2 separate regions of the Homo sapiens genome follow, and region 2 is linked to region 1. The links come from fine-mapping of genetic effects on gene expression. A gene starts in region 1. The other region holds a variant in brackets. All regions are shown on one strand. Distances are between the middles of the regions. Region 1 holds the start of MYH15 (myosin heavy chain 15). Region 2 overlaps MYH15 (myosin heavy chain 15).

Region 1 (17,540 bases):
GATGTTGACTACAATTGTACTTAGTTAAAACTCATAATTATCCTGAGTTAAGAACATTCAGAAAATATGAAACCAATAAATCGATGAAAATAATGCTATTAATACCTTGAATTTATATATCATCTTTTAGAATCACTAAATATATTTAATGCATGTCTTTTGTGCTGAATAACAGCACCTGCAATTCTAAAGTAAGTGTTACTCTATTATGCAGATCGTGGGTCACTGACCCTAAGGAATATTATCATGACAATGTTCCATTTCAGCTAATCTTTATTCCGTTGACTGTGGTATTACCTAGTATTTTATAGGAGGGTATATTTGCCTTGAATTCTGAAGCACAAAAGTATAGCCCTCGATCTTAGTTTCCTTCAGTTTCTCTTCATAGAGCTATCATCAGTATTTTTCTCTCAACTCTGCTCAAAACTATCCATACTTTCAGCCTGCTCCATTGTTATTGGTTGGTGAATGTGAGCCAATCATGTATTTTGCTGGTCCCTGCATACTCACCTGTAAAATATGGAGCAATGAGCCAGCTGTTATTAAAGAACTTTTAGTTCTAAGACTCCATGGATTCAAAAATCTTGGAGCAATACAATTCAGATGTATTGACTTAAATACCTTTATTTTAAAAATAAACTACTTATTTAAATCTTTCCTTACCAGTCTGGTTTTCTTGATATGGTATACCAGTTGATTTTTATCCTTAGCATACTTCTTTTGAACCACAAATCTAAATTTTTCTCATCCAACTTAAAAATGAAGTGGTGATGCTTTTTAAACCAAGGACATGTTGCCTGTATGGACATGTTGCATCTTGGTTAGATGCTTTTCTAACCAAGAACATCAGCCTCCTTGCTGGCTGGAGCTCAGCCAAGGAGGAAGTATAGCATCATGCTTAAGAGCAAGGACTCAGGAGTCAGACTGATGGGTCTGCTCTATTTGTTGGTTCATTCCCTACGTGTTTATTAATGCTCTACCCAAAGAACTAGAGTCTTCTCTGAGTGCTGCAGACCTAGTCCTGCCCTCAGATTACTTATGTTTCATTAGGAAGATGGGCAATTAAACAAATAATAATAAAATAGGATGAAAATTATCATGATGCAAGTAGCAAAGAAATCTAAGAACACATCTAGCTGACAGAACGAACCTAGAGAATACCTTCTTGTAGAAATGTTGCTTACTGAAGACCCAAAGGATGATTAAGAATTAGCCAGATGAGGGACAGGGCTGAATGTTCCCGGCAGGGGTCACATGACGTGTGAACACCCAGAGGTCAGAGAGTGCTGTTGGCATCTACTAGTAGTGCCCCAGCCAGGTCAGGCCTGGGGATGAGACAGCAAGAGAGATGAGGTGTGGGTGTCAGTCAAGCAAGAGGATGGAGAGCTCTATAGGCTCTGTTAACATGTTGGGCTTTTATCATAGGATGCGGAATGATTTTAAATAAGATAGTACAGTAACTGTGTTTCTCTACTTGGGGGCCTCATTCTGGATTGGCTGCTGTCGGGAGACTGAGAGAATACAGCAATACGCCCCCAGAAAAATGATGATGGCCTTGATCCAGATGTTGGCAGGGGTGATGGAAAGATGGAGATGGTTTTGAGTGATATTTAGAAAGAGTCAGCAGAGCTTGGCAATTGATTGGATGTAAAGGTGAACAAAGTAGGAAACAAGAATGACTTTAATGTATCTGGATTTAAAACTAGAGATAACACTTGCTAGTTCTCTGAGACTCAGTGTTTTCATATAATAAAGGTTATTACATATATCCTTCATAGAGCTACTGTAAAGTTAAAAGAGTTATTATGTATAAAACACTTAACCTAGTTCCTGGTGTGTGATACACACTCAGAACTCAGATTTGCTTTTATTAAATAGTATATTGGCACTGTTTCCAAAGGTATCATTTCAGGGATGTTTGAGATTCCTTCCTTTAAGTTGTAAACTGTTATTCTTAAAAATACAAATGTAGATGAGAGCGTTATGCCTCCTTGACCTGTATGGCCCTGTACATTGCTCTATCCTAGCACCTAGCATTTATCATACTGAATTATAGTCACTGATTATATCTCTGTTGTCCATGTCCATTAGAGTGGAAACTTCTTGAGGTCTTATTACTCTTTTAATCCACAGATCCTAAGAGGACATACTTTAAAATGAATGCATGACAGAATTTAATCAGAAGGTGGCCGGGTGCGGTGGCTCACACCTGTAATCCCAGCACTTTGGGAAGTCGAGGTGGGTGGATCACTTGAGGTCAGGAGTTCAAGACCAGCCTGGCCAACATGGTGAAACCCCATTCCTACTAAAAATACAAAAATTAGCCATGCATGGTGGTGGGTACCTGTAATCCCAGCACTTTGGGAAGTCGAGGTGGGTGGATCACTTGAAGTCAGGAGTTCAAGACCAGCCTGGCCAACATGGTGAAACCCCATTCCTACTAAAAATACAAAAATTAGCCATTCATGGTGTTGGGCACCTGTAATCCCAGGTACTTGGGAGGCTGAGGCAGGAGAATCACTTGAACCCGGGAGTCAGAGGTTGCGGTGAGCCGAGATTGCACCATTGCACTCCAGCCTGGGCAACAAGAGCAAAATTCCGTCTCAAAAAAAAAATTAATCAGAAGTTCTTCTCTGGATCAATAGCGAATAGCTCAGTGCAGAGATCCAGCATTTTGATCAGAGATTGGGAGGTAGTAAAGTGTAGGAGAAGGTAGTTCTGAAAGGATTAAAGAGCCAGCAAACGCTGGGAGATAGAAACTAGTGAAAAGAGGGAGCAAAAGAGAAATGTCAATGATACTCACAATTTGTATTGTGGATGGACCTTTGATTAGTAAATGAACAACTGGGAAAGAGAAGAAAAGGAAGAAGGGACCCCAGCAACCAGGGAGTGTCAAATGCTGCAGAGAGGTTGAGTAGGATTAGAGACTGAAAAGCACACAATTAGGATTTCTCTTCAGGAGATCATTAGAAAGAACAGTTTCTGTGGAGGGATGGGAGGAAAAGCCACATCCCAGTGGGAGGGGAGCGGGGAGCAGAATCTAGGAGTGTAAACTCCATTGCCTGGAGACCTATAGCTGTAATAATAATCACCCTTTGAAGTAAATGCTTTAAATAATCAATAATTTGTGCAATACTCTTGATTTGTAATTCAACCGTTTAACATTCCTCTTTGAAGAAGATAAACCTGCCTAAACCCCTGCTTTTGTAGAGAAATAAGCTGCGTATAAATAAATAAATTGCAGGTAGCGTAGCTGGTTAAGGGGTGGTAGATGTGTGCCTAAAGACTAACCACTTAAGATTTTCTATGGAGGAAACCTTGCTCAGTTAAGGCACATAACATGATTATCCCAGCAGCATGAATACTAGGAAGCAGCAGCATCATTTGTCTACCTAGTAGTGTCCCTAATTAGGAGCATCTTGCAGCATTTCCCCAGATTTGTGGCATTCACTGGGCCTTGTAACTCAAATGTGTTTCATTTACTGCCTTAAGACATATGTTTCAGCTTGTTTGGGATCATTTAAGTGCTTGATAATTCTTCCCTTCAGCTGTTGACATCTAGATAAATCCATTCTCATTTTCAGGCATTGTCTCCAATTTTAATAATGGAAGAGGCTATGTCAAAAGATGCTTAGTGTTTGTTTACTCAAAGGAATATTAATATTTGTTCTTATTACTTGCATCATGGCTTCCCAGCAGTAGAAGGCTTTGAAAGTAAACATGCATAATAACGTACCTTGATGAAGAACTCAAGCGAATCTAATCAATTATGATGAAACCGACTTAAAAATGTGTCAGGACTGCTAACATGAAAAGAGTTTAACTCTTTTAACAATTTACTTCATAGGCATCATTTGAGTTTCTGCTTATAGTTAAGGCACTGAAATGCCAAGGTGAAATGAATTTCTGCACCCCCTCATCCCCATATTTATTGTCTAGCTCTGATTGAAAGAGATGAGTGCTGAGTGATAGATTTACTGTGGTCAGCAGTAAGAAGACTAGAAAGTGTGACCTTTCAGGAGCGATCACCATCTAAATAGACAATTCCCTTGTCTCACCTCCATCTACTCAGCTAGTAGCTGCCACTATGTGAATTTCCCTCTTTACTTCCCCATGGTACCATCCTCCATTATGATTTTGCACATCTCAGATTCAATAAGCAATTTGGAAAGCAAAGCTACTGTCTTACATATTTAGCACAGTGTGCAAAGACTGCATAAATGCTTGTTGAATAGTAAAAAGAACAGTTAACAGTGATTGAGGTTTTACTATGCACCAGACAATGTGCTGAGTTTTATACACAATCTTCACATCATCTTAGGAGAGAAACTAAGAAACTTTGTTGGGACAGAGACTGAGACATAATGCGTTAGTTAAGGATATTTTGATGGCAAATAACAAAAACTCACTTCAGATTATTTAAAGTTGGGAAAGAAATTAGAATGTACTGGAAGGTCATTGAGAGCGCTTATGGAAATCAAAGGCAGAAATTAAATATAGGTCTCAGGAGGTACTGTTACCAGGAAGGGTCTTTGAGATATAAGAAAGTGATCTCTCTCTTCCTTTGGTCCCTTATTGCTGCTTCTCCTCATCCCTGTGACTCCCTCTCTATGGATGCTTTTGCTGATTAGCGTGCATGTGGCACCATGTGACCACACCACAATGCCAACCTCAACCCTCAAGTTTGCATCACTCCATTCAAGCAAAGAGCCCAGATGGAGAGTGGCATCTAAATCCCAAATCTGTATTCCAGGGGGATACCCTGATTGTCTCTGATTGTCCCAGATCAGATACTGAAGCCTGGTTTATAAGTTGGGCCAGGACACCAGTGTCACCTTACAGACATGGCTACTTGCGGCTCATTCCTGTGGATGAGAGCAGGCACTTCTAATAGGAGTGTGGGCTCAACAGGCACTCCAAACTGTGTCGTCTAAAAGTGGATAAGAACTGGTAATTATACAATTAATTATCAATAAAATTAATTATCAATAAAAGTTGACGATGAATTGAATGTGGCATGAGATAGAAGGAAAATTAGAGATGCCTCCAAGGGTTCTATCCTAGGGGATTAGGAGGCTCCAGGATGAGACCCTTCCATTGGAATGGTGGGCAGAGAATGAGACAGTGAAAGAGCCTGTGAAACAATAATGTGAGGAACGTGTTTTCTCATCTTAAGAAAACATAACTCTGCCTACAGTTTCCATTCAGACTAGTGAGTTAGGAGTCGTGGCTGTATAAGCTTACCTCTTCCCTTCACTGCTACAGTCCCCCTCTGGGCTTCTTTTCTGAACTTTGCCATATGACCAGCTCCACCCCCCCACCCCAAAGTGTGAAAATTTCTCTCTACAGATTTGTCTAATGCATAATAATTCAAGACAGAAGAAACTTCTATCCCTATTCAAATCTATTACTCCAAGAGGGCACAGTATTTATTCTGCCCATTATTGTACCCCTGGGCCTAACATGGGCAATTACAGATGGGCAATACATATATATTGCATGAATATATTCAAACGTATATTTGAAAAGGACGTTTTCAAAAAAGGTGTTTGCAAAATACCTGAGGAGGGAGAGGGGGATAGCTGCAGAAATACAACCAGTATAAAAATAGCTAATTTCCAAAATTGTGACTGAATTTCTAAAAGAACTACAGGCACTACACTTAAAAGTAGGTTGACCAACTTGTTCTAGTTTTCCTGGGACTTTTCTGGTTTTCACACTGAAAATCTCAAGCCCTGGGAAATACCTCAGTTCCGGGAAGACAGGGATGGTTGGTCATCTGGGCTCGTGACTTGTCTCAGCTGGCAGCTGTTCAAACATATTTTTTATGAAAGGCAGCTAGGTCAGACCAACATGATTCTTTCTTGGCTAAGAGGAAAAGCTTACATCTCAGCTCTCCCTTCCCAGTAAGGGCTTCCCATTCTTTGTCTTTACTTTATCAACTGGTAACTAAGATACACCTGGAAATTGTGCCGTATCAATATAAACAGGATACGGATGGCTTATATGGTGCTCAGTCCCTGTAAAGGTGAACTCTAGAACAGAACAGGATGCATTATTTTGCTGTGTTACAAACTGAATTATGTCATGTACATGATGATCTAATGTCTTTCTCCGAATCCAACCTTCTGATAGTGATGACGTTGTCTATGTGCCCTGTGGATCATGCAGACAAGTAACCTGGACTTTGCAGTTATGGAAAATGTGTACATTCATTGTCAGTTTAGAAATTGCCATCTCAAGTCCTCAATTCTCTTATTAGTGGAGTGTCCATATGTCCCTATTCACTTGGGTCAGTCTTAGATTAAGTTTGTTGTCCTGATTTAAATATTAATGGCATCCCCTCTTAAAAATCCCAGTAAGAAAAAATAGGTCCAGGTTTGGGTGATGAATTGTATGCACACTTCTGAGCATAGTTATGTGATTCCCAGAACCTAATCAGTATGTATTGATAAATCAAGCTCCTGAATGTTCAAAGGCAGAGCTAGGTCCTAGAAGTGAGGTACTCCCAGCATTGTGCATGCAGCCCGTCTGCCCTATCCTTTCCTATTCTCCTTCCAGGATTCCAGTGCTGCCCCCTGCTCTCTTCTGTCTTGTAAATATATGCAGTATCAGATACAAGTTTGTTTATCATGGTGTCAGAATTCTCCGATAAACATGTGTGAGTATACCAGTCTCAAATATAATTTCCTTTCAACATGTAGATGAACTTTTCCTCTAAGAGAATTACCTTCAGTTCTATACTCATCTGTGTTTCTCTGTCATTCACAAAATATAGCTTCCTGATTCTTTTGCTGGCAAGGTTAATTTGTTTACTTCTTTTGGGCATTCGGGCTCTTTCATTTTCTATTTTAAGATGTTGCTAGGACTGGGCTGTGACAAGTGTGTTATTCTATAAAATTGTAAAGCCATATGTGCAACTGGAACCTAAAGGGACCCAGAGGTCAGTAGGACATTAGGGGGTTAATGGAAGCTGGATGGGGCCAAGGAGATAGAAGGATTTCGATCCTTTTTTTGCTCAGGTGAATCATTCTCTTGGCTTCAGTTACCTATCTCCAAATGGTTGCCAGGCCCGCCCCACTCCTGGCACCTAATGTTTCCTACTTTCCAGTGCCTGCTCCTACACATTCTGTTCTTTGTACACCTTTAAATATGTTAAATGCTCCAGACTTGGAAGGAGAGTTACACAGCTGTGTGCTCTGTTTTGCTGTGATCTTTTCATCTCTGATGTTATAATAAGAACTACTTGTAAAAAATCTGTTAATTATGAAATATAAGCACATGGCACACATTGACAGACTAGAATGGAATGAAATGAAAGGTAGTTCTCTCCTTCTCCCACCCATCTCCTTCTCTCACTACTCAGACAGACATCCATTTCTTAGGTATGTTTCAGGAAGTTTGTACACACATGTATTAATGGATATCTTTTATATTCCAAATATACTTCCCAAGCTCTACTGTCTACTGAGTGCAAGCCACTAGGAAGTCACACATACAGAGAGGAGGAGGACCCAGACAAATCCAGACTCACAACTTGTCTCCCTGACTACAGCTTTTCCTCATCCTCATCTACCCAGAATATGCCACCAGAGCCATTTTCCCAAAATACTGCTTTCCTCATGTTCCTGCCCACAGAGTTGATGATGTTTCCTACCATCTATTTCTAAATTTCTCTGCCTTATTTTCAGAGCTTTCCTTTACCTTGAGTTCTTCTATATTCAGATGTCTAACAATGTTATTGCTGTTATAATGATTACAAAACCTGAATCTGAATGCTCACCCGCAGAAAAATCAGTTTTGTCTTTTTCCCTGAGAAATGCTGCCTTCAGTCGCATCTCTGGAGGGCCATCATTTATGTTGTTTCTCTTGAGCATCTTTTCTTCTCTCCACTTTAGGAAATGTTCCTATACATTAAGACTAGTCCTTGCATTACATAGGTGAGGAAAATGCATCTACAGGGACTAAGTGATTTCCCACAAGTCACATGCCTATTTGCTGGCAGAAATAAAACTAACTCTTAGCCTGAACCAGTAGGCTTTGCTTTAAATCATACTCCTTTAAACTAGATCCTACAAGTGGTATCACTATACCTATCCAAGCCACCACAAAGAAGAGAGCAGATTAAGTGCAGTAAAATACATTAGTTTATTGGATTTGTTCATTGCAAGATAGTAAGTGATTACAGTTCATTCTGAAGTGGGTGCTGATCTGTCCTCAAAGACAGCACCTGAGCTAAGCAAACTTGGCAAGTCCTTCTCTACCTTCTTACCTATAAATGTGATGAGTAACACTTGCCTTGCATGCTTGAGTGAAGAGGAAGACTTTTTTTGTCCAAATAGAGAGAATAGCTTCTCATTTAAGATCATGAAGGCCCAGTTTCCATTTCTTCTTCTCCCTGTTATCAAATGTAAAGTGTGAAAATTAAAGATAAACTATGTCCAGTGTTTGGTATACAGTGGGTGCTCAGTGACTTCAGCCTTGGTAATTTGTCCAGCAACTTAGTCCCTCTAAGACTGATACTTGCCTTGCTTGAGCCAATGAACTTCTTTATTTATTCCAGCTTCACTCACATCACCATGTAACCTGCTTGCCACCTTCAGCCTGGGCTTCTTCATTACTGCTCTTGGCCAGGCCTCCCAAATGCCCAGCTGTGCCTGTATTTTTGTAAATCATTTGCTCCCAGACACTTATCTCTGCCAAGATACTTATCTTTTTATCCCTTTACTGTCTATTACTGAACATTTATCTGAATCACTTCTCTTTGTAACCATACTCTGTCTATAACGGTCTGTCTGCTTGGGGGTAATTAGATACCTCGAAACCCCCCTCCACGCCTATCAAAGGCCTAGTGTCCGCAACTTGATGTTTCTCCATCTGGAATATCCTACCACCTGTCAGAACTCCATGGCGCAGGGTGGCATTATGACTTTCACTGACTACAGGCACTTCTGTCTTTTAAGGACCATTTCTCCACAAAAAAATATTAAAAATCAGATTTCATAACTGTGTTGGCCTAAAGATGAATATAATCCAGGCTCTGTTCATTAATATGTATCATTCATATTACTTTTATATTTTTCTTCTGATTTAAAAATAAATTAAACATTTTCATGGGCCCCTAAAAGCATTGTGGGCCTCAGGCACTGTGCCTTCTATGTCTAGTGGGTAAGTCAGCCCTGCTAGAGTCAGATATTCTTGAGTCCAATTTTGTATAAATTTGAGACATAGCGAAGAGAAAGAAGGGGCACAGGTAGTTACAGGAAAACTTAACACTCTTTAGTCTATCTATGTGAATGGTTGCTCATTTAGAGCTTGATGCCTTATTTCCACTTTTTTCTTCTCTGTATCAATTTTTTTTTTTCAGGTTGAATCTTGCCTACTCACGTTTAGGGCCTTTTTTTGGTGGATTGCTTTAATAAAGATGGATCTGTCAGACCTTGGAGAAGCCGCAGCCTTCCTCAGAAGAAGTGAAGCTGAGCTGCTTCTACTACAGGCCACAGCCTTGGATGGTGAGACATGTGGTGGTTGCTGGCTTCACTTTATTTTGCTCCTTCAAGATGGTGACTAAGATATTTGATTGACAGAGAAGAGCCATCAGTTCTAGAGCCTAACTTATTTGCTTAGGGTATGATCAGCCTCTAGGAAACTGAGCAATTGAGGGCCTCTGAGTATCCAGGGTAGGAATGGAAGTACCCACAGAAGAGGAGGGTGGCTGGGAGGCAGTCTAGGCCCGGGCCCTACACACTTGATCCTAAGACAGATTTTCTCTTCAAGGAGCCCCTGTTGTAACACAGACACCTGCAGGAATGGCCAGACAAAGCCTTTCCTAGAAACCTCTTAGTTATCAGTGAATGCCACAGTAGAGAGAGGGGCCTGTGACTTAGACTGGTGGGTGGGGTTTGTACATTGTGGGGAAGAAGAAAGGGAAAGACTCTGGTAAGGCTGCAGACTTTGAAGTTGTCTCTGGCTCTCCAGAATTTTTTGATGTTGGAGCCTTGCCTCTAGCGGTCTTCTAGGTCAGCAGGGTCACTCAGCCAACACTAAGCAAAAGGTAATTAGGAGACTTGCTCACCCTGATTCATAATTCCTTGGTAGTTACAGGCAAGGACAAAGGTTAATGAGGATTTAGCCTTAAAAAAAAAAGGCTAAGTTCTACATTGAAATCTCTAAATAAATGTTATTCTTTTTCCTGCTACCTTTACATGTCTGTGTTGAATTTCAGCTAATTGGAGATTTAGAAATCAGATTCACAGTATGATATAACATGAAGCTACCTACATGTCTTAATCCAAAATTATTCAGCAGTGCAACATAAGGACTGGCTGAATGTCGTTCTAGTATTCAGAATTAGTCAACATTAGACTTTAATATGACCAATTATAATTCAAGCCAGTTATGGAGGATATTATATTTCCATCACAGACCAGTCCTGGATCAGTTCCCAGTTTCCAGTCATTGGATTCATGACTGTGATTGGATTTTAGGCTAATTATAATCCATCAAATCAAATACGATAACAGAACTATCCCTGAGGTCAGAACTGGTCATGCAGAGGCTTATCGCAGGTAGTTAGATAATGGAGGACAAGATAATAGTGATGCCAGGAAGAAAAAAAAATTGAGCCTAAGCATTAGAGATAATTGGATGATGCATTTATTAAAATCAGCACCATAAATAATTACTTAAAACATAGCAATCTACATAATTTCCTGTTAATTTTTTGGACCAAACAATCCTTCCTCATAGAAATGCACTGGCAGCAGAGACAAGTGTTAGCAAAAGTTGTTCATCTTCCCAGGCTGGTAGACAATGGAGTTTGCTTTTTTGAACTCGGGTCAAATGGAAGTAGTGTGATGACGAGTATTTAGCAGGTAGTCTTGGGATCAAATTCCCTGTCCTTGACCATCTCTGGCTGGGTAATTAGAGCAAATCACTTCACTTTATTGAGCCCTGGTTTCCTCATGTATCAAAGGAGATAATAATACTTGTCCGGTCTGCCTTCCTCCATTGCTGTGGGGACCAAATGAGACTATAAATGTGAAAAATAAATATAATGCATTATTATGATACCCGAGAAGGAAAACTAGAATTCCTGGGTGACAGTGAAGAAGCCCAGGTGGTTGTAGAGCTAGGACAAAACACCATTCGAAAGCCAAATGTAAATAATTCTTATATTAGAACATGTAAGCGATCTATTTAAAATAACTATAAGACTGAATATAGTATTACCCCTGTTTTAATCAATATCCTAGAAAAAAGATTCAAAAGAAATGCTTCAATACATAACAGTGGTTATCTCTGAGTTGTTTGATTATGGGTGATTAAAAACATTCTTTTCTTCATACATTATTCTTCAAGTTTTCTTCAATAAGCACATATTAGCTTTATATTGGAAAAGATATTTAATTGTCTAAAAAATGGAATCATATAGAAAAAGGCCTACTTTACAGATGAGAATACGAAGGCCAAAAGAGATGAAGTCATGTGGCTTTATATCTTTTTACCAGCAAAGCCAGTGTTAAAATCCTGGCTGCCTCCCTCAAATCCATTGCTATCTACATTTCCAGCTCTGCATTATTCATGAACACCAGGAATTAAAATTGACAGAGTTCATTTACTTCATTTTTTAAAATGTCCCTGTCAGGGTTTGGGTCTCCTATGAGAAAGGATTTCTGATAATTTTTATTCCCCACTAAGTGTTTCCAGGGGTGGTAAGAGAGAGACTTCATCATGAGGCAGGTGGTGAGCCTACTCCTGGAGAGAAGAATTGGAGGAGAAAAAGCTAAGAATGTGTTAGAGGAGGCAGGCTGTAATGCAGGAGCACTGATTCAGGAGGTGGATGATCTCATTTCTAGAGTCATTATTGTAGTGACTGCCACTAATTAGCTATGTGACTATGGGCAACTCTCTTCATCTCTCTCCCAAGGTTCTTTTTCTAAAAAGAAAGAGAAAGAGAGACAGAGGGAGAGAGACTGTGCCAGGTGACCTTCAAGTTTCTTTCAAGTGATAACATTTGGTTTAAAATGCAGAGCATTTTACCTTAAACACACACACAAAATGTATGCTAACTGGGTGCTTTTCAAAAACAAGCATATTTTCATAGACATAACACAAAGCAAAATCAGTTTTTGCAAAAAGGGACCAAAATAATGAATACAATGCAAAGCCAGTATTTAAAACACAAATGATAAGTAGAAAGCAAATGCACAATCAGCTAGATGGGAACATAAACTCCTCTTGCCAAGCAGTTTTAGTGGTGAATTGTTTGTAATCAGGGAAACGAAGAAGGCAGCACTGATAGCAAGAAAGTCGTGAGCAACCAAATTCTTTGCAGAAACAAGCATGGTGGAAGAAGGGGCAAATGGTGCCCAACTTCAGCTCCTTTGTACACACTCCTTCCCCAGTCTTATTGCCTTCCTCTGGGAAATAAGGACCACCTGTCCTGCGGCAGTGAGCCCTCTCTAGCTTTTGTGACTCATATATTGGAGGTGATGGTTGGTGACTGAGTTCGCATTACCTGTTAGTGCTGTGGTTATAGTGGGGTTTTCACCTGTGTCTTCCCTAGCCATTGGCTAACATTTTCCCTCCTTCAGCCAAAGGCTTTCCCCATGTACCTGAGTAGCTGTGACCTGGGGACTTCTGTGAGCTTCTACTAAGGCTCATTTTCATATGTGTATATATATATATATATATATATATATATATATATATATATATATATATATTCATTTTCCTTTAAAAGGAAAGTATGATATATTGCATATACATACATAGACACACATATATATAATATGCTTTTAAAAGAAAATGAGCCAACTCCTGGGTTCAAGTGATCTTCCCCATTCAGCCTCCTGAATAGCTAAGATTACAGTCATGCACCATCACACCTGGTTAATTTTTATTTCTTTATTTTTTATTTTTGAGATAGAGTATCACTCTGTCACCCAGGCTGGAGTGCAATGGCACGATCTCGGCTCACTGCAACCTCCGACTCTCTGGTTCAAGTGATTCTCCTGCCTCAGCCTCCTGAGTAGCTGGGATTACAGGCACACGCCACCATGCCCAGCTAATTTTTGTATTTTTAGTAGAAATGGGGTTTCACCATGTTGGCCAGGCTGGTCTCGAACTCCTGACCTCGTGATCTGCCCGCCTCAGCCTCCCAAAGTGTTGGGATTACAGGCGTGAGCCACTGTGCCCTGCCTTATTTGTTTTTTGTAGAGACAGGACTGGGGGAGTAAAGGGTCTTGCTATGTTGCCCAGGCTAGTCTTGAACTCCTGGGGTCAAGAGATCCTCTCACCTTGGCCTCCCAAAGTTCTGGAATTATGAACATGAGCCACTGCACCCAGGCCCTTAAAATCATATTTTTTATTCATCATCACTGTCTATCTGCTTCAACTGGGAGAGAAAGAGAAGCTGCCTCAGGTGTTCATAAGAGTTCTGGCTCATTTCACCCCAGACCTCTTGTTGGTTAATCAGTTTATGGAGGGCTACTTTGCTTAGGGATGGGGTATAGGAACTGAGGACGCTGAAGAGAGAAAAATAACATATTGGGGGAAATAATATGAGCCGGTTATGTTGTTTAACAAAAACAACCCATATTCTCTCTCCTCAACCTGCCCCCCTGCCAATTCCACCATGTAATTCACTTAGCTGATTTCCATTCCAAGATTAGAAATAAGGTCTAAAGAAACCCTGAAGAACATAACCATTAATCTAAATTTTCACTTAGTTGTTCCCAGACTTTTTCTGAATGAGTTTTCTCGGGGGAGGGAATCTGGAAGGGGTGCAAGCACCAGGGCAACCACCAAAGTCCTGGGGTGTGAGTGGAGGAAAGTGTTGGGGTTGGGAGGGGTGTTGGGAGGTAACTTTCTTGTAGCAAAATGGTCTATGGTGCCCCCAAGCTGCTGCTTGCTGAGATGTTTCTTGTTCCTGTAGTGCCATTATGTGAGTGAGTGTATCTTCAGAATGAGCTTTCATGATTTTATCTGACTTTGCAAGTTCCTGTAGTCAACAAGCTGATTTAGCAGAAATGAGATTAGATCTATCAGTATGAAAGTGTCCAGTATGTATTTCTGTAAGTACTATAGCTATAATCCATTTTTTTTTTTTTTTGCTCTACAGGGAAGAAGAAATGCTGGATTCCTGATGGTGAGAATGCTTATATCGAGGCTGAGGTAAAAGGGAGTGAAGATGATGGAACAGTAATTGTTGAGACAGCAGATGGAGAGGTAAAGAAATTTTTATTTCATTGCAGTGATGACTATGTTCTCTATCAAATAACTAAATATATTATTTCTATAATATTTTAATTAAAGATCTGGGGTAGGAGATGCCACTGACTCACTTCGGAGTCATTCATTTTAAGAAGCTCCTCCTTAAGTCAGTGGGCACAATGGCTCATGCCTGTAATCTCAGCATTTTGGGAGGCCGAGGCAGGCAGATTGCTTGAGCCCAGGAGTTTGAGAGCAGCCTGGGCAACATGGCAAAATCCTGTATCTACAAAAAATACAAAAATAAACCAGTCGTGGTGGTACATGCTTGTAGTCCCAGCTACTTGGAAGGCTGAGGTGGGAGGATCACCTGAGTCTGGGGAGGTCGAGGTTGCAGTGAGCAGAGATCACATCACTGCACTCCTGGGCAACCAGAGTGAGATCCTGTCACCAAAAACAAACAAACAAACAAAAAAACTCCACTTACCATCAAAGATTTAATGAAGAACAGTGAATAAATCAGAGTAAAACAATTGCCAGTGGCAAGGATTATTGACTAGAACTCACAGCCATTTCTACTTTTTCATCAATGTTTCAAGTCAGTATTTTTAAAAAAAGGTATCCTGTGGGGTGAATAATGACTTAAGGAACCACGAAGCAAGCTGTGTTTGTAGGATCAAGAATGAGATGTATAATTTGAGTAAAAATGGCATAGTGTCACAGAAGCCAAGAGATGGGGGAATGGCCAGTAATGACAAATGCCACAGAAGAAGATTAAGAGTTGGAGAAAGTCTTGGATTTCAGAATTAGGAGGTCATCTATGACCTTTGTAAGAAAAGGTTATATCAAGTGTTGGGGTACAAGCTAGACTGTAAGGTTCACAGAAGAAATGTGTAGTGAAGCCATAATACCCGCCAGCCCCTTCTCCCTGCCACCAAGGCATTCAGAGCAGCAGGGTAACATTGAGAAGACAGCTCACTCTCAGAACCTTTGCCTACATTGCTGACTTCACATTACCTGCCACCCCGTGGTGTAAGCCGGGCCCCATTTCTGTCCTACTTAAATGAACTCTTCCTTATAGATTTTACAGATGATTCCCTGCCAATATTCACTTCTCTAAACTCCTTTAAATTCTTCCTTTTCCCAAATCCATAACAAGCCACATCCTGTAACAAACAGATATTATTGATATCGAGAAAGTTTGTCTTTTTAATGCTATCTTTGTTTTTAGGCAATTTACGATCTAACATGTTGCCATCTGATTTTTAAAATTCTGGAAGCCACTCATAAACTACCACATAGAATGCTTTCATATGTCTTCCTGACAGTCAATATCTGTTACGTAAAAAAATCTCAAATTAGGTAGATGTTATTTAACTCTTCAGGAAATTAAGAAAAGAACTTGGTGCTTTTTAACTGGAACATAAATAGGTGGACAAGGGAAAATTCAGCAAGAAATTTTCCTTAGTCCTAAATCAGTAAACTAAGAAATAGACTCAATCAGGGTCACTTAGCCTTGGGACAATATTTTATTAGAAAAGATCCCCCAAAGAAATCTTGTGCCCATTAGCAGTCACTCCCCCTTCTTTCCTCCTGCACTAGCCCCAGGCAATCACTGATCTACTTTCTAACTCTATAGATTTGCCTATTCTAGCAATTTCAGATAAATAGGAGCATATAATTGGTGGCCTTTTGTTTCTGGCTTCTTTCACTAAGCATAATGTTTTTGAGGTTCACTCACATTGTCACATGAATAAATATTTCATTCCTTTTTATGGATAAATAGTATTCCATTATATGGATATACCATGTTGTTCATCCATTCATCAGTTGATTGTCACTGGGTTGTTTGTATGCTCTGTCTATTATGAATAATGTTTCTATGAACATGCATGTGCAAGTTTTTGTGGGGACACATGTTTTCATTTCTCTTGGGTGTATAGCTAGGAGTGTATTGCTGGATCATATAGTAACTCTATACTAAGCATTTTGAGAAATTTCCATACTGCTTTCCAAAGTGGCTACCATTTTACGTTTCCACCAGCAACATATAAGAATTAAACTCTCTCCACATCCTTACTAACACATTTTATTTTCTTTTTGATTACAGCCATTCTATTGGGCATGAAGTGGTATTTTAATGTGATTTTTATTTGCATTTCCCCAGTGACTAATGATGTTGAGCATCTTTTCATGTACATATTGGCCATTTGTTTATCTCCTTCAGAGAAATGTCTATTCAAGCTCTTTGCCCATTTTTTTAAATTGGGCTATTGCCTCTTCATTATTCAGTTGTAAGAGTTCTTTTTACTTTCTGGTTGCAAATCCCTTACCACATGTATTATTTGTACATATTTTCTCTCAGTCTATGTATTTTTTCATTTTCTTAATGATGACCAACTAAATTTTATTAGGCCTCCAGATGTGAGGCTTGCTCTTCTGAGCACATTCTCCAAAACAAACTACTGTCCCTTCAACAGCACTTAAGGTGATTTGTGACTATAATGTGGTTACAACCATAGGAAGAAAAGGCCATTAATGCAGGTAGAAAGAAGAGTCTGAAGGTGGTTTATTTTGTCCTGCTTGTCCTTCTTTGATGTAATGAAGGTCCCATTCCCCCAGCTTCACTATCTCCCTGGCTCCAGGATTCCTCTTCCTCATGTTAGAAGTGACTACACTTCCAATCACAATGTTACAATGGTCTTTGTAACATTAGCAAAGGCAATAAATCTAGTGGGTGTAAAGTACTACTTATTGATGAAAGTTGGAAATGAAAAAAATAGAAAAATAGAATTAGGGAAAAGGGGAGGTTTTTGAAGATGTATGAGATATGTTTACGTTCTGCATGGGTTTGAGGGGAGATGAGTCCTTGAAATACAGAAAGTGAAGGGACTCAAAAGAAGAGGGATTACTGTTAGAACAATGTCAAAGAAGACAGATGGATAGAAATTGAATCAAGAATGTAAAGAGTGTGAGAGCCTTGGAAAGAAGCCATCACCAACTGGGATTAAATGGGGCAATCAGTTGACACAAATATGTATTAATCATGGAAAAGGGCTATAGAAAGGGTGTTAGGAAACCTGTGAGAAGAATCCCAAGAAACTTTGATAGTAGAAATGCATCCATATTAATCAATATATTAATATTTATTGATTATTTATTATATCCCAAGCATTGTGATAGGTGCTTTAATAACTATATTTAATAACTATAGTTATTATGACAACAACATCAAAAATGAACATGCATTGCAAGTTTTTGAACTTCATTAAAGAAGACAACATCAAAAATCCTTCTTAAGGTATTTATAATCTAGCCAGAAAATA
Region 2 (12,116 bases), 100 kb after region 1:
GGACTTTTATAACTGCCCTTCCCGTTGCTTAAAGGCCCTTCACCGAAGTCTTAGAGGGATGATGAGAAGGAGCCAAACATTCTAGATCGTGTTTATCTGCTGTGTTTGTTTTACTGCTATTAGAAATTTTATTTATTAATGTATTTGCCTGTGTATTTTGTGTATCCCCTTATTTCTTTTGGGCTCTTTAGGGCAGGGATTTTGTCTTTGTCTTGTTTACTTCTATAATTAAATATATGCCATGTAAATGCCACATAAAGGTTTTAAAAGTTTTTCCTTTAAAGAAAAATAAAATTAAACAAGAGGAGAGGTCACAGTTTGAACCCAAGTTCATCTGACTCCAAAGCCTGCATCCTTTTCAGAGTCATTGTGTATTGTGGCTCCTCATTTACCACCCAAAGGGGTCTGGCTGAGGCTGCCATTAACTAAACCTTGTGCCCTCAGAGCTGTATCTTCCTGAAAATGTGCTTTTTTCCTAATTTGCATAAAGGACACTTGAGGACCCGTCAGGATCTAGTGTTCTTTCCACACTAGATTATCTCTGGGGAATAATGCTGCTAGGTTAGCCAGATCACCATTTAAATGATAAAAATGTTTATTAAACCCAGCAGGGCCGTCCAATACATATAGAAGCCTCTACTACACTACAGGTAACTATTTAAATTTATATTAAAGTTAAATAAAATTAAGAATTCAGTTTTGATCACACATTGTACTAGGCATATTTTGAATGTTCAGTAGCCACATGTGGCTAGGTGTTTACCATATTGGACAGTGTACATAGAGAACATTTTCACCATTACAGAAAGTTCTGTTGGGCAGTAGTACTATTTTGAAGTATTAGGAGCTGAGGTTTTTAGAGATTTCAGTGTGAAATAAAAGATTTTATTTTCTTCATCAGTGGAATAAAAAGGCTAAATTTTAGTGGTTCTTTCTGGTTCAAACAAGCTCTGAGTCTAATATATTGCTAAATATAAATCTTATTGCCTAAATGATAGTGAATGTTCTCTTTGCTATCCTTGCATTCTCCACTATTTCTAGAATTCCAGGCCTGTCTAAGTCCACAGAGCCAAGCTGGCATTTCTCTAAATAGAATTCCCTTCCCTGTTTTAATGGCAGCAATTAGATACTATCTATCCTTTCTCTTGTCTCAAATTCTCTCCCTAGTGTTATCTTACTAGGTTCAGGTTCGGCTTGAATTTGTGGCAGGTTGTTATTAATCTTACCTAAAAAAAAAATTAGCTTACTTTCAAGACTTGTGTTGCTCATGGTGGTCATGACCTTTTTGTTAATGTGTGTCCCCTACAGTCCCAGAGTGCCCTGGCCCATGCCCTGCAGAAGGCTCAGCGTGACTGTGACCTTCTACGAGAGCAGTATGAGGAAGAACAAGAGGTCAAGGCTGAGCTGCACCGGACCTTATCCAAAGTCAATGCTGAAATGGTGCAATGGAGAATGAAGTATGAAAACAATGTCATCCAGAGAACAGAAGACTTGGAGGATGCCAAGTGAGTAGGGCAAGGCTATCCTTAACCTGGAGTTACTCACATGGAGCAGTATGAGAATAATGACTCTGTCTCCAAGGCCTCATGGTATGCACTTAACAAATCCTTGCCGAGTGCAGGAACAAGCCCAAAACCAAAGCTGAAACGTGCACTGCTGGTAAGAAGCACACTCTGTAGAGGGACTAAAAATATAAAAAGTATAATACAAAGTGACAGAGACTATAAAGAGGTCCTGGGGAGAGAAAGGAGGCTCTTTCTAGGGGCACAAGGGAAGTTTTCATAAAAGATGTGACTTTGAGCCGTGGTGTGAAAATAGGCTATCGTTTAAAACCCTGTATTTCATTTGTAACGCCATAATAATTGAGTCCATGTGTGTACGTGTCTCCATCAAAGTCGTTGTGTCCCTGGTCTACAACTTGTAGACTACAAAGTAGTCTGTGAAGATGGACAGGGAAGCTGGAAAAAAATGTTAGGATCTGTCGTCATGTCTTCTAGGACAAAGGTTGCTTTGAAAAGAAATCATCCCCAGGCCACCCCTAAGATTAGAATATCAATTTTATAGCCATTTCTATGTAAAGGTTTTAAAAGTTTTTAGGAGTTACACAAGTTTGGGGCACAGCTGAATTGAGACTCAGTACCAGGGTATAGAACTGAAGCATTTTGCTTAGAGGCCAGGAAACTGTACCTTTAAGAGAAATTGTCAAACCCCAGCTTATAATCATTCAAGGTTTACTCAAAAGAATGTGTCCCTGGCTTGGTAGCTTGGCAAAAATCCAGGGAAGATCAATACATTTCTCTTTAGCTTCAACCAGAAATAATGTTTTTCAGTTCTTCACCTAAATCTTTGAGAGGCATTGCTGTGCAATTGCTGAACAGCTGCTGTGTTTTGTCCCAGAAGGGGTACCAAGTGATCCATCTCTGTACCCACAGTAACTTAAAAAGGGCTTTAGAATGACAGATACTAAAAATACCTGCAGTAGATGTTTTATCAAAACTCTGGACCACAGAAAGTTTTGGCTTTGAACTGAGATGCCCTCTTATATCCAAATATGGTATTTACTTCTGAAGTAAGATTTTTCCCCCTTCTAATGATTGAAGAATTCAGGTGAAATTGCCTATCTATCATTCTGTTTGATGGTTTCTTTTGGGATTGGGTAGGAAAGAGCAAAAGAATATAGATTACTTTATGACCACATGGGTTTGTTGGAACTAGTTCTGTAGTATGTAATAACTAAAGAAAATAAAGGGCAAACATGGTACTCTGTGAAGACAATTTTTTACTTTCAAATTGGTGGGACATAGAATAAATAAAACTTTGTCTGTATTATGCTTTTCCTCTAAATCACCTCAGGGAGGTAGGCAGCTACAAAACAATCTAGGGTCCTGGTTTCTTTTGTTATTATTAAAGTTAAAGATTTGCCTGCTTTGATTTCCAGGCTGGGGTTCAAATGATGAGTTAGTTTAGCAGACTCAAGCTTATCTAAGACCCATTGTACTGCTTCTGAATTCTAAGTTCCCCAAGGATAAGGATTTAGTTTCTTAATTTCCAATATCCCTTTACATATTCGAGATAACTAAGTAGGTGCTTATGGTTGGCAAGTTAAGGAGCAAAATAGTAGTTGATATTAAACGTAGAACAAAGTTATTGGTAAAACAAGGGTAACCAGTTTGTCCAGTTTGCCCTGGATGTTTCCTGTTTTAGCTTTGAAAGTCTCATGTCCTGGTGTATTAGTCTGTTCTCACACTGCTAATAAAGACATACCCAAGACTGGGTAATTTATAATGGAAAGAGATTTAATTGACTCACAGTTCACCATGGCTGGGGCGACCTCAGGAAACTTACAATCCTGGTGGAAGGGGAAGCAAATAGGTCCTTCTTCACATGGTGGCAGGAAGAGAAGTGAGTGAATAAAAAAGGGGAAAGCCCCTTATAAAACCATCAGATCTCATGAGAACTTACTCGCTGTCATGAGAACAACATGAAGGTTACCGCCTCGATGATTAAATTACCTCCCACTAGTCCCTCCCATGACATGTGGGGATTATGGGAACTACAAGATGAGATTTTGGTGGGGACACAGCCAAACCATATCACCTGGTGAAACCCCTCAGTCCCAGGCAGTCCAGTATGATCAGTCACCCAAAGTGAAACTCCTATTTTATCAACAAGCATTTCTAAAGTAGTTAAAATATATGTAATTATTTCACTTGACTCCTACTGCCTTAAGTCAGGTAAAGCATCAGAATATCCTCTTAACGTTTAAGAAACATGAAGCAGAAAAGTGAAGTGAGTATGGCTAGGAAGCCGGGGGCAGAGTGTTGTTAGAGCCTAGATGCTTCCTGGATCCTGAGCACATAGGGGTTTTTGCAGGATTCCACCAAAAGGGGACTTTATTACCACATTCCTCTGTTGGGCTAGTTATGCAGTCCTATTAATTCCGGAGAACCTTTTTTTCTGTTTAATAGCAGTAGATGAGAAAAAGCTTTGGTACATACAGTACTTTTCATCTAAGAAGTATAATGAATGAGTAAGAATGGGACTGCCAGCAACCCTGCAGGAGATGTAAGAAACAGAACACATTTCATCCATTAGAATTCCTAATAGTAGCATATTACGGGGGTGGTGGAGAAAGAAGCACTGTAATAAATTACTCCATCTCAGAGATGCCCAAGGAACAGCAGATGGGGGCTAAAAAACCCCATAAGAACAGTAGGACCTGTTAAGTGAGCATAATGAGATGGGTTTGGGAATATAAATCTGGAGAGAGGAGCTGAGGTGGAGAACAAACTCGGAGAGAAGAAAGAATTGTGTCATGTTGAGGAGCCACATGATGAGAGAAAATAAGCAGGAAAAAGCAAGAGAGTGTTCTTTAGAAGCAACACAGCCAAGGAGCTCTTTAGTGACTACATATGGCTACAGATTTGTAAGGTGCTTACTGTTGGTAGGGTGTTCAGTACAATCTTCCTTTTCTCCCCCTTCTTAGGAAATAATCAAGTCAGTATTGCTTATTAGAGCTTTAGGATAAGCAAATATTTGTAGGAATTCAAAGAGATTCTGAGTTCCAAGTGCAGGTTGGCAAAGGGGGAAAATAAAGACCCCATGCACACAGGAGGCAGAGGATGGTGGTCATAGACAGTGAGGTCACTTTCAGATAGGAGCTGCTGTTGCTTTATACCACTAAGTCCACTGCAGAGGCGCCATCTTACTTTGCACCCAAGCTCTATCTTTAATCCAGGGCAGACTTGATGAGCTCTCTGAGAGTTATTGCCTCACTCACTCTTTGGGTGTCCTCCTTTCTCAGGAAGGAACTGGCAATTAGATTGCAGGAGGCAGCCGAAGCCATGGGGGTGGCCAATGCCAGAAATGCCTCCTTGGAGAGAGCCAGGCACCAGCTGCAGCTGGAGCTCGGGGACGCCCTGTCTGACCTCGGGAAGGTCCGCTCTGCAGCAGCCAGGCTGGACCAGAAGCAGCTGCAGTCTGGCAAGGCCCTTGCCGACTGGAAGCAGAAGCACGAGGAGTCCCAGGCGTTGCTGGATGCCTCTCAGAAGGAAGTTCAGGCTCTCAGTACAGAGCTCCTCAAGCTCAAGAACACCTATGAGGAGAGCATCGTGGGCCAGGAGACACTCAGGAGGGAGAACAAGAACCTCCAAGGTACACCGAGCTGGGCTCAGAGCCAAAGCCAGAGCGGGTAGCTCAGGAAGAGCCCTGGCTACAGGCAAGGCTGTCTTCAGCATTTTCACATTCCCAACATGTTTTAACTTTTCAATTTTTATACTTCTGTTTGACTTATTTTTTTTTTACTTTAGATGCTGTTTGTATTAAATTAATTCTAAAAGTAAGACTAGTTTCCTACCTTTAACTTCAGTTCCCCTCTGTAAAGGAAGCCAGTGCTGAAAATTTCTTGATATCCACAACCGTACCAAGATTTTCCATGTGTGCTATACTCAAGTGTGTAGTTTTTACCCAAATTGCATATTGTTCTACACCTTTTTTTCATATATGAATATATTTCCCGATTTAATGAATATTTCTATAGCCCATACTACGTACCAGGCACTGTTTAACTATTTATTGTTAAATTTTCAGAATAGTCTAGTGTTAGTTTTCTCATCTGTAAAATGAAGGTTATATAGGTCATAAGTTGAGTAACTTGTTCAAATTCACATTTGATAAGTCGCAGATCTGGGATTTGAGCCCAGCCAGCACGGCTCCAGCATATACGCACTTAACTACTGAGCTGTGCAACCTTCCCACGTACCTTGTGGGTCTTTGCATGCCTGTACATGGAGACCTACCATAAGCTTTTTAATAGCTACATAGTGTTTTGTAATAAAGATGGCTATCATTTAACTAGACTTTATTCATTTTAGATCCAATTATTCACAAATATGAATAATCCTACATTATATATCCCTATACATGTATTTATGCACATGTAAAAATATTTCAGTAGAATGGATCCCTGGAAAAGAAATTGCTGGGGTAATGAAATGAATTTTTAAATTTTGATTTACTGCCAAACAGCCCTTCAAAGAGGCTGCCAACTTATCCCAGCACCAACAGCAATGTGCATGAAAACCCTGAGATGCCCTGGAAGCAAGTTCATTACTGTTGGAGGCGTAAATGAAGCTTACTTTCTGTTGACCTACATAGTCTATGATCAAGGCACTAGATGGAGACGTGACGGGTGCTAAAACAGTGGTTAGAAAACTTTAGCTACGTCCAAACCAGCTGGAGGGCTTGTTAAAGCACAGATGGCTGGGGCCCACCCCCAGAGTTTCTGACTCAGTAGGTCTGAAGGATTTGTATTTCTGACAGTTTTCCAGGTGAGGCCGGTGCTGCTGATCTGGGCACCACCTTTGGACTGGGGCGGGGTTTGAATATTGAGTGAGCTTTTTCCAAAGCTCTCCAGGTGATTCTAAGGTGCGGTCAGAGTTGAGAACCTCTTCCCTGATTTTCTTCTTGATAACCCATCTTTAGGAGAGCACTTCTCAGAGAAGAATTTATTATGCAATGAAAATTTCCATCTAACATATTTGTCTTTGTAACTTCTAAAAATTCTCATCATATCACATCACAGCCCAGGATCTCAGAACCAGAGGAGCAGGTGACCTATTGAGCTCCTTCCACCACCTCTGAACTGGGTAATTCTCTGAGCTACTTGGCCCTATACCACACCTCTTAGGTACTAAAGGCAGAACTGACCATAACAATATCAGGTGGAAGAGGTTTTGTGACTTCTGGATGCCCTATTCTGTTTGTCAAAGGCTTATGTTCATGAGAGGCTAGGAAAAAACACTCAAGTGCTTGAGCTAAAGCCACTGTCTTCCTTGGGCCCCTTCTGATTCTCTGGCCTATCTGGGGCCATGCCTTGAATGCTGGCAGATATTGATCCAGCTTTTACTTTAAGTTCCTGTCGCAGTGTTGAGTGGTGGCTGAAACAATGGCAGCCACTAATGTTGATAGCTAAGCACTTACACTGGAAGGGTAGGGACTCCAGGTCTGTGTTCCTCCAGGTGGAACCTGGAATGGCTCTAATGAGCAGGACTGTCATGTAAAAGTTGCAAAAGTTGTCCAGTGTACAATACTCTGAAGCACCACCCTCACCATTTGTTGTAGACAATTTTCAATTTTCAGATGGCAAAAGACTATATGAAAAAATGAATACCCTTTTAAAATTTCTCGGTCCCATATAGGATAGGTCATCAAGTTACCAAGGGTGGCATGAGGTCACTGTTCCAGTGGGCTGGAAGAATCTGTTGTGCCTGGTATCATTGGTTTGAGACTGAGCCCATTCACTAACTTTGTTTTTCTTACCTCTGTCTCCAGAAGAGATTTCTAATCTGACAAACCAGGTTAGAGAAGGGACCAAGAACTTAACTGAAATGGAAAAGGTCAAGAAACTAATTGAAGAAGAGAAGACAGAAGTCCAGGTGACACTGGAAGAAACAGAGGTATTATCACCAGGGAGAAAAGAAAGTTTTCACTGTGACAAGGCAGAAGATCTGCATTCAGCAATAACAGCAGCACCAACAAAAGGACACGTATTCAAATGTTTATTTACTATATGCTAGGCACTCTGCCAAATGCATAATTTTAATATAATCACCGTAGGAAACTACTGTCCCCATTTTATAAAAGAGGAAATTGAGACTCAGAGAGCAGGATACACAACAGTGAATGCAAATCTCCTGATTGTAGTAAAAACAGGAACTATCTATCTTGTTCACCAGTTTATCCCCAGTGCCCAGACCCTCACTACTCAACATGTGGCCCATGGACATCGCTTGGGAGGCTGTTAGAAATTCAGAATCTCAGCCCTCTGCCCATCTCTGTTGAATCAGGATCTGCATTTTAACAAGATCCCTTGGTGGTTCATATGCACATTAATATTTGAGAAGCACTGGCCTAGAACATTGCCTGGCATGTAGTAGAGGCTCAGTAAATATTTGTCAAATGTTGAATGAATAAATATTCTCATAGCTGCCCCCTCTTTAAAGAGTCAGTCACAAAAGCTTTTCAATTTTTTTTCCCCAAAAACTTTCGGTAGTTTCAGAAATAAGATTCAAAGTGATGTTGTCAAACATTTGTTTCTGAAAGCTCATCTTTGTGCAGATTGACAGGAGGGTTTTCAGTGTTATGGATTCACAGTTCAGGAAAAGTCTCTGGCTGTATCTCTGGGTGTGCATTAGCAATTGAAAGGACCTCTAAGAAGACATTTCGCCAAAGAAGGTAAACTAACAAGGAAGTCATCTTATCATGATTCTTAGGTGGTTAAGAAGCCCTGTGCAGCCTCTTCTCAGAGCTGAACTTCATCTTCCTGACTCAGCCTTTGAACAAGTATTCAGACACATTAAAATACAGCCCTGATCCTCCCACCAGTAGAAAAAGAAAAAAGATTTTTGAAAGGTGTGGCAGTCAGTGTTAGGCAGGGGTCTCTTGGAAGGTATGGCGATGGAAAACAAGACCCCAAAGGACCACTCTGTGCCAAGCATTGTCTGTTAAATTTACCTCACCGTTGTGATTCCAGAAGAAACTTCCAAGCAAATGTGTCCATATTACCCTCTGTATAGAGTTGTCAGGCAGCAGCTCTCACCCTGTTATACATAAATGTTTCCTGAGGCTATCTAACTTTATACAGACTCCTTTTCGTTGGCAGTGTGGTGCCCTGTAGCACAGCTGGTCCTTACACAGTTGGTGAACTTTGTTTTGTTTACTCGTTCCCTTTGGTTCTCTGGCTATCCTGGCAAGGGACTTTTTGAAGCCACCACCTTAACTGAAAGAAGTAAATTTTATGATAGAAATTTCAAGTACTATGACAAGCCAATGAAAAATACAACTGGCACGGGCCATTTATGTCCTGTATAACACAGAGGCATCTTTGTGTATTCAGTCGATCATCACGTGGGTCAAGGGTGAGAATGACAGGAAGGCCATAATGCTCAAACCACTTAGTACCACTAGAT[G/A]GCAACACATTCTATTCGCATTTTCTCCACTTCTGTCCTCAGCCACATCCATAAATACTTCATCAACTTGGACATGTATTTGTAACATTGCGTTATTTATTTTCCTGGGTGAGCCTTTATGAGAAACTTTATCAGATTTTTTTAAAGCCATAAAACTCACATTATCCCAGGTCATGTTCCCTAAAGATTCACTTTCTCAGTGCATTTTAGAGGGTTAGAGGTGACAGTTTCCTCTTGAAGGAACTACTACACTATTCCCTCTGAGGAAATTGTTATCCAAGCATTTGTTTTTGAGTGTGCGTTAGCAATTTTATTTTCTTTTATATTGAAGGTAGTATCAAGATAACATCAAGGGAGGTCTTATTAAAATTCCCATCATCTTTTTATTTTTATTTTAAAATTGCAACTCAGTTTTACTTTTTTACATTTTGTCATATCTGCTAAGCACGCCTCAAAAGAGGCTATGAAAAAATTACTTCTGCCCTTAGGACTGCCTGTAGCTAACTGACCACAAAATTGCATCACCCCTTATGCCCTTATATCCTTGGTATTCTGTAAGTGTTTTTTGGATTTCTTCTTTTATATACATTTTTAGCTTCAGGACGGGTTTTAAAGATTTAGCCAAACCTATGCTTTTAGAATTGAATTGCCTTTATAACATCCCTGCAAATAATTGCCTTAACTATATTTGAATACACAAAGGGGCAAGGAATCTTCTGCCTGTCAAAGAAATTCATTTGCAGTAGTGGTACCAATTATGGTGTTAATGGCTCACACTGAGTGTTACATGTCAGGTACATTGTAAATTCCTTTATTTGTTCTTCATATGACAATATTTGGACACTACCCTGTTGTTTGTTCTCTGAATACATCCAACTTTTCCTCTATCCCCTCGTGATGTCCAGAATTTAATAGAAGATTCCAGGTAGGAGTTATCACCTTCCTTGTTCTAGCTCTGATACTTTTTAAAATTTATCCCAAAGTTGGAATATGTTAGAAAAAGTCAAGGGTAATACATTAAAAAGTTTAAATATAGTCACAGACAAGAGTGAAATTTTCTATTTTAAAATAGGCTTTAAAATTCTAGTTCTGGAGCTACAGCTGAAAGACCTAAGAATGTCAAATCTATAAGTGAAATGACAAATGAAAGCAGTTGCTTGTCTCACTGTGTTGCAATCTCTAGGGACCTGGCTTGAACCTATATCTCTCCCAGTAACTCTAAGAGAGCTACATTAGCGACATATGTTTTGGGTAAAAAATACAATTTTGTCTAAAAGTGGACTTCATTTAATGCTTTTTATTTATGTATTCCAGGGAGCCCTGGAACGTAATGAAAGCAAGATTCTTCATTTCCAGCTTGAACTCTTGGAAGCTAAAGCAGAACTTGAAAGAAAGCTTTCAGAGAAAGATGAAGAAATAGAAAATTTTAGGTATTTAAGATGATTTTGATGTGTAACAATTATGTATTTCTGAATCCTTGACTAAACAGAGCTCATTATGTCTGGCTGCTTTTATGGCCCCTGTTGGAGCATTACCAAAGAAACTTAGTGTAACTCTATATTATTTTCTTTTATATACAATATCTATAATCGTGTATAGATATTCCTTTATACACAATTAGATATCCTTTTATACACAATTGTGTATAGATATTCCTTTATACACAATTAGATATCCCTTTATACACAATTGTGTACAGATATTCCTTTATATCAATAGTGGTGAGCTTACTAGCTATCTATATACGATTATTGCCAGATTTTATAATTTTCTTATATTTGAGGAGCTTCTACTGTCATGTGAGACTCAAGACAACACCAAATAAATGATTATATGTATAAGGACTGTGCATACTGTCTGCGTGTCCCTATAATGCCACGTTCTTGGGCATTAAGAAATTGACTGAAAATGCTGAGCCATGGAGAAAAAAATTAAAAAATTAAAAAATTCAGTGCTGTACTTTCAGACCAGAGTGAAGTTTTCACATACCCCCTGCCTGTACCTGTAGCCATTTGTTTGAAGAGGAGCAGAAGCCAAGAGCTAAGCTGCTTATTGAATCCTTGTTAAAGCAGCTGAGTCTTAATAGTCAGGAAACTGAATTAGACAGGACTCATGGGTTGCAGAATGTTTTCTTAGCTTTGTCATAACAAGCTGATGACTTTAGACATTCCACTTCTTAGCTTCTCAGTGAAGTGAGGGGATAAAAGCAGTCCCTACATGTCACAGAAGGTGGTGAGGAAGATCAGTAGGCTGATGTTGGCAAAGCACTTCACACGCTGTAGATCAAAGGCACAATTATAAACACATGGAATTAACGATGATTATATTATCTAATCTGTTCCCTTAAGTCAATGCCATATGTCAGCAAGAAAAATCATTTGAGCCTGAGATTCAACTGGCAACTTACTTTCAATGTATTTGTTAAACAGTCTTTTTTTAAGAAAAAGAAAAAAAACCCTGTTAACATGTTCAATTGAACTGACCTCTTTCCCACAGCCCATTTTTAGACAAAACTCTCAAGGGGGTCAATTTTTTAATGAGGGTGTCAAGCCAAATTTGGCCTTCTATGTGCTTTGAGTTATCTTTGCTCTCACTCACTGGCATTTTCTTCTACAGGACTGACTGTGGCGAGGAATTCTGATCTACTTAAGAGGTTCTGAGTCAGTGTCTAAAAGAATTTTTTTGATGAAGGGCAAAAACCCTGGGCCTTGATATTTGCCCTACTTCTTTCCACAAGGAATAAAAATGAATGTCTCCTTGTGCAGATAAAAAAAAAAAAAGCAACAAATAACACTGATTTCAAGTAATATCAGACCTGTGCCTATAAATAAACCCAGCTGAGGAGAAATGAATCCTCAGAGAGCCTGTGTCTCGTCAGCTACATCTGAATGTCGTAGAGCAGTTCACCAATTATAATAATCTTAGTGCGAAAAAAAGCCAGAGATCCAAAGAGCTAGGGCTGGAAGAAGAAAGAACTGAAGGATAAGCATGAGCCATGAGGAGCTGAGAAAAGAAGGGGTGGACTGGAGGCAGGGGGGTGAGCTATTCATAAATTTTAGTTAATGATTCATAATAACTATAATAGGTAGATCCAGAAAGAAAAGATGAGCTTATCTTACAAAATATCACAAATACCAGCCCAGACCC

Evidence for each region.
Region 2: its variant is fine-mapped to the expression of MYH15 in lung (TOPMed, PIP above 0.99). The same link has a PIP of 0.9 or more in sun-exposed skin and unexposed skin.

What each region holds. Positions count from the first base shown.
Region 1 is chr3:108,502,415-108,519,954 of GRCh38, reverse strand. MYH15 (myosin heavy chain 15) reads left to right here and starts at 9,359. Exons shown (of 41, transcript NM_014981.3): 1 at 9,359-9,512; 2 at 14,126-14,232. The coding sequence starts at 9,425.
Region 2 is chr3:108,403,621-108,415,736 of GRCh38, reverse strand. It overlaps MYH15 (myosin heavy chain 15), which reads left to right. Exons shown (of 41, transcript NM_014981.3): 30 at 1,309-1,505; 31 at 4,805-5,154; 32 at 7,333-7,457; 33 at 10,284-10,399. Among named protein-coding and RNA genes, the nearest start is that of MYH15, 100 kb to the left of the region's middle. RefSeq lists enhancers at 8,691-8,750, 8,811-8,910. The variant G/A (reference allele first, on the strand shown) is at 8,970.